2 separate regions of the Homo sapiens genome follow, and region 2 is linked to region 1. Evidence: fine-mapped expression QTL. A gene starts in region 1. The other region holds a variant in brackets. All regions are shown on one strand. Distances are between the middles of the regions. Region 1 holds the start of ODC1-DT (ODC1 divergent transcript). Region 2 has its middle 19 kb from the start of HPCAL1.

Evidence for each region.
Region 2: its variant is fine-mapped to the expression of ODC1-DT in thyroid (GTEx, PIP above 0.99).

The regions. Positions count from the first base shown.
Region 1 is chr2:10,448,275-10,451,200 of GRCh38, reverse strand. It overlaps ODC1-DT (ODC1 divergent transcript), which reads right to left and starts at 1,473. Exons shown (of 5, transcript NR_110597.1): 1 at 1,330-1,473; 2 at 920-1,148. ODC1 (ornithine decarboxylase 1) reads left to right here and starts at 2,874. Exons shown (of 12, transcript NM_002539.3): 1 at 2,874-2,926. RefSeq lists a silencer at 2,004-2,926.
Region 2 is chr2:10,282,558-10,285,274 of GRCh38, reverse strand. No RefSeq gene overlaps it. Among named protein-coding and RNA genes, the nearest start is that of HPCAL1, 19 kb to the left of the region's middle. RefSeq lists enhancers at 608-1,208, 1,267-2,466. The variant C/T (reference allele first, on the strand shown) is at 1,712.

The DNA.
Region 1 (2,926 bases):
GTCCAGTGTAGTATCTAATGTTTTTATTCACTCTTTTAGCACCACACATAGAAGTCTCATCTCTGGCCAGGCACAGTGGCTCACGCCTGTCATCCCAGCACTTTGGGAGGCCGAGGTGGGTGGATCACTTGAGGTCAGGAGTTTGAGATCAGCCTAGCCAACATGGCGAAACCCCATCTCTACTAAAAATGCAAAAATTAGCTGGGCACGGTGGTACATGCCCGTAATCCCAGCTACTCAGGAGGCCGAGGCATGAGAATCGCTTGAGCCTGGGAGGCAGAGGTTGCAGTGAGACGAGATCACGTCACTGCACTCCAGCCTGGGCAACAGAGTGAGACTCTCAGAAAAAAAAAATAAAAAAGAAATCTCATCTCCACATGAGGGTGATTCCTAAGTGCGTGGCATCACGTATTTTTTTTACAAAGATCTGTTGCTTGTTTCCGAAGAAAAGAAAATAGTAATGGAGAGGATGAAGTTTACTGAAAATACATTGAAAGACAATAAAGTCATGCATTTTAAGTAAGGCCAGGTTTAGTCACCACCACCTGAGCTTCTGGAATCCAGCTGAGTGGTTGGGTTTCACAACTCCAGCCTTGCTGTCCACAGTTCTGCTGCCCAGGGCCTCTGCGGGTCTTCCTGCAGCCGCAGAGCAGAGCTCCGGGGAAGGAGCAGGCCTCCTTCCCTCCTTCTATTTCCCCTGCTGGGCTCTCCAGGCAAGGGCTCACCTTCCCAGCATGCGGGCAGGAGTTTGGGCTTTGGGGTGGGCTGGCGGGAGAGGAAGGTATGTGGGCGATAGCAGTGTGAGTGGCTTGTATGTGCAACAGTCAGAGCCCTCCTGGCTCCCTGAGCCAAGAACTGGCCTCTACGTTCCAGTTAATGTTTCTATCTGACCACCCCCAGGCTGCTAGGGGAACCCTACCTGCCAAGACATCCAGGCCCTCTGCCTGGAGGCTGCATACTGGGCAGTGCTGGGAACGACTGGTTGATAGGTGTGCCGGGAAGCTGGGCGATTCTGGCAGTGCAGGACACTTCCGGAGTGTGAGGAAAATTGCGTCATTGGAACAAAGTGATTCCTCACAGAGAGGCACAAAGTCCGCATCACCACAGAATCAAAGATGTCTCATTCAGCGCTGGAGCTATAACGTTCTCTGATGGGTTTTGATGGTTAATCTCATCAAGAATTAAGCTTGTTAAGGGTGGAGCTAACCCCCCTCTCCCTCCCTCTAGTCCGGGGAACACGGTGCCCGGTGGGCGCTCAAGGACTATGTAAAGATAAAGTTGATAGGGGCGTACCACCCCCACATCCCTTCACATAGGAAGAAGACTCACTTCTGCTTACGGCTAGCGTTTGCTCTGTTTCTGTGGAAGTCGTGCCTGCTCCAGGAAGAGCTGGATCATCCATTCATTCATTTATGCATGCATTCATTAAACAGGTATTCACTGACTGTGCCTCAGACCTGGTTTTGGGTACCAAGGAAGTTTTTCAAAACCTCACAGGGCTTTGTAGCTATAAAGATATGTAAGGATCCTTGGGTTATCTGAAGCCCAGAGAAGGGAGATAACTTGTCCAAGAGCACACAGCAAGTTGGGGGCAGCGCTGGGCCAGTGCTCTGAGCTCCTCCAACCCCGCCCCCACCCACCCAAGGCTAGATCTAGATCTACCCACTCCTCTCCTTAACTCTTCATCGGCTGTACTCCCACCCTAAGGAGTCGAAATCCCCACCCTAGGGAGAGACATATCCTGTCTGGATTGTCCAAAAGGGAATGAAAGGTAAAAATGAAAAAAAAAAAAAAAAGTGTCCCCAATTCAAGTGCAGTGCCTCCCTGGTGCGGGCATTCCAGCGTGGCCTGGAGTGAGTGGCAGTCCACCTCCAGAGGCGTCCCCTGGGCGCTCCTAGGGACTCGAATTTCCCACGCGGCTTTTTGCTTTATGTATTCACTGTTTAGACGTTTTCGGTCAAAGCATTTTGGGACTTCCGTAACTCTCAGAGCGCGCCAGGGAGCCGCCCTTAAAGATACCTAGTTACTGATGAGTTCCATCCGGTAAAGCAGAGGGTAGTGGGCGGCTTGGAGACTCAGGATCCGGGTCCCCTCACGCTCCTGGCTGAGTCCCTGGCTTCACAGGGGAAACTACCTCCGCAGGCCAGGACCCATCTAGTTACAGGATACCTCGATGTTACAAAGACGAGGCTTCCAGCGCGGGGGCGTGGAGGCGGCTGCCAGCCCTGCCCGCAGCGTGCTGGCGACCCCCGGGACGCCCCTTCCCTCCCGCGCCTCTGCTCCCTAGCTGGTGGGAGCAGAGCGGCACCGGGATCACTTCCAGGTCCCTTGCACCGGAGGAATGGGCGGCAGCAGGGTCCGGAGTCGGCCCGGCGGGGCCCACGTGGCCAGCACATCGGTCCTCCGCTCGCGATTTCCCTTTTCCGCTCTCGGGCACGAGGTACTGAACGCCAGGTGGAAGCACAGCTGTGCAGCTACAGGCTCTGCCGTTCAGCTGCCGCGGGCCGGGGCCGGGGCCTGCGGCGTCGTGCGCGTGCGCGGACCAGTTCCAGGCGGGCGAGACCGCCGCAGGGCGGGGCGGGGCGAGGCGGCCGCAGGGCGGGGAGGGCGGGGAGAGGCGGCCGCAGGGCGGGGAGGGCGGGGCGCGAAGCCGGGGGCGGGGGCCACGCGTGGGGCAGGCGGTGCTCGGCTCGGCTGACGTCGGCCCGCCGGCGCCCCACCAGCTCCGCGCGGGCCCGGGTTGGCCACCGCCGGGCCCCCGCCCCTCCCCCGGCGGTGTCCCGGCCGGAACCGATCGTGGCTGGTTTGAGCTGGTGCGTCTCCATGGCGACCCGCCGGTGCTATAAGTAGGGAGCGGCGTGCCGTGGGGCTTTGTCAGTCCCTCCTGTAGCCGCCGCCGCCGCCGCCCGCCGCCCCTCTGCCAGCA
Region 2 (2,717 bases), 170 kb after region 1:
CATATCTGCAGGAGGGGCCTTGCTCTCGGAGCACTTTGCACCCCTCCTCCATTATAAACCCCTGCTCTGCAGGGTGACCTCAGGCAAATCACTTACTCCTCTGAATGTGTTTCCAGCTTCACAGGATGAGTTTAATGCCATGGGCTTCATTCGCTTGGTGTTCTGGGGAACTCATTCACACCCCTCAACACCGGCATGAATGAAGCAGTTTCAGTGTGGAGGTGCTTTGATCAGGAGGATGGAAGCTTAGGAAGGTTTGTGCAGTTGGGTCAGGACAGTGATGAAGGTGACAGGCAACCTGTTCCCTGCAGATGTCTTGGGGCACATGCTGGCATGTGTTCCATAGCTTTATTTTCCAAACCCCAAATCAGGACCCCCAGCCTGAGTCTGACCATGGGAGGGGTTTTTATACTTGGAGTTGTCCTGGACAATCTGGGTCCCAGGCTGCTGGAGTAGGGGGTGTCTGCCAGGTATGCAGGCAGCAGGTGGGCAGGGAGTTCTGACCTCAGGCCCTACGGAGGCATCCACTGGCGCAGAGCCCCTCAGAGCCGAGATGGGGCTCAGCCGGCTGTGTGGGTCCATAGCGCCTCCCAGGGAACACAGTGTGGCTTTGTGCTCACCCTGGCATCTGCCTCAGGCTCTGACAAAGCAAACCCATGCACAGACCTCAGCTCCCCGCACCAGGATGGCAGAGGGGCTGGAGCACCAGGAAAGGGAGGGTCTGGATTGGGTGCCCTTCCTCAGGTCTCAGTTCCAGAGGGGTGGGAGTCCAGGGTCTTTCTGAACGGAGGCTCGGATGGCATCTTATAGCTCCAAGTTCCCCCCACCCACAGTGTTGAAGCAGCCCCACTGTTTGCCTTAAAGCCTAGGTCATGGGGCTGGGCCAGAGAAGCACAATCCCACCCTGCCCCAACACACCGAGGCCACTGGGAGTCACCAGGGACCCCAAGCAGCCTGCGGCCAGCACGTCCCTCTGCTAAACCACCCTTGTCTTCACTCAGATGCCACCAAGCAGAGCTGAGAGCAGGCACGTGGCCCTGTTCATCTCTGGATCCCGGCCTGTTGTTAGAGCCCAGACGACAAACCTCTCAGTGATGTGAGATGGGAAAGCAACGCGCAGCCTGGTTTCATAAGGAAACTGCAATTTTTTTCTCTTTCAAGCTTTTTTTTTTTTTTTTTGAGACAGGGTCTCACTTAGTAGCCCAGGCTGGAGTGCAGCCTCAACTTCCTGGGCTCAAGGGATCCTCCCACCTCAGTCTCCTGAATAGCTGGCCCTATAGGTGTGTGCCACTGCACCCAGCTGATTTTTTGATTTTTTGTTGAGATGGAAACTCACTATATTGGCCAGGCTGGTCTCAAACTCCTGGGCTCAAGCGATCCTCCTGCCTTGGCCTCCCAAAGGGCTGGGATTCCAGTCATGAACCACTGAGCCTGGCCACTCTCTTCACTTTTTTTGCTGCATAAGAAGGATCCAACCCACTCCAGGGTTGAGCACACTTCCCGGGACAGCAAGCAACTATCTCCCCTTACACCTAGGAAGTTCTAGAAATCAAGCTATCCTGGCCTTTGCAGAAAGGGAACCTGACCCTCAGGGTCTAATGTGAAAGAAAAAGAATGCAAAGTGAAGAGGGCCCTGGGTGGAAGGATACAGAAGGCGAGTAGTGGTCTGATGCAGGTGAAAGGAGAGAGAAGGTGGACACCCCCCCACACA[C/T]ACGCAATGCCCAAGACACCAGCAGGCCAAAGAAGGGCTGCTGGGCCAGCAGTGGTGGCCCCACTGGAAGTGAGTCAGGGTGAGTCAGGGTTGGGGTGGGGCGGGGTTCGGGGGAAAAGACTATGTGGTGGCCCTTGGGGCAGCCTGTGGCTCTATTTGCTGCAAAGCGGTGACTGTGAAACTGTCTTTCCTTGTGTCTTTAGTGCTGGCTCCTCCTCCAGACCCATTCCCAGGCCTCTAAGAAGCTCCTCAGCCAGGCGTGCTCGTTGAGAGCCTGAGGAGAGAAAGGAGGCCGTGGCCAGGCCTTTCTACACAGATCCCTCACTGTCACAGAGGGCCGGCCCCTGCCTGTGGCTGCTTTGTCTTGTGGAAGGCAGCTGAGCCCGGCGTTCATCCATCCCCATGCTGGGAACCCTTACGCTGTGAACACAATCCCGGGCACCTCTCAGGTTCCCGGCTGCCTGCTGTTTCCCCTAATGCAGGTTGACTCTCACCTTGGAGTTTGGCTGAAACATCACCGTCCAGGACATGCCACTTGGCTTCCCTGTGGGGTCCCGGGGGACTGGGAGACGTTGGGTTTGCAACAGACAGCACCCTCCTTTCTCTCTGAGGTGGGGCCATGGCATCTCCTTTGGGAGTGGTGGTCAGGGTGGCTGTGCACAGCATTGCCTGGCCTCTTTCCCAGCTTCACCCTCACAGCCCTGGGCTTTCACTTCCCAAATCAAGAGTCAGCCTTTCATCTTTGCCCCAGTTTCTCCAGGGATGCAGCTAACATGCACACTGGCTCTGTTCTTGCAGCCTGGTGAGGGAAGGGTGTCGGCAGGTACTAATGGCCCTGTGCTGAGCCACGTGGGTGAGACGTCAGCTCAAGGCTCTAGGGGCCTTGCCCAACAGAGGCAGAGATGCACAGAGCAGTGTGGGTGGGTGGGAGTTACCATGGAGGAGACTGGACAGGCTGGAGGTACCTGGAGGCCTGTAGTGGGGTCAGACCTTCCCAGGGGTCTGC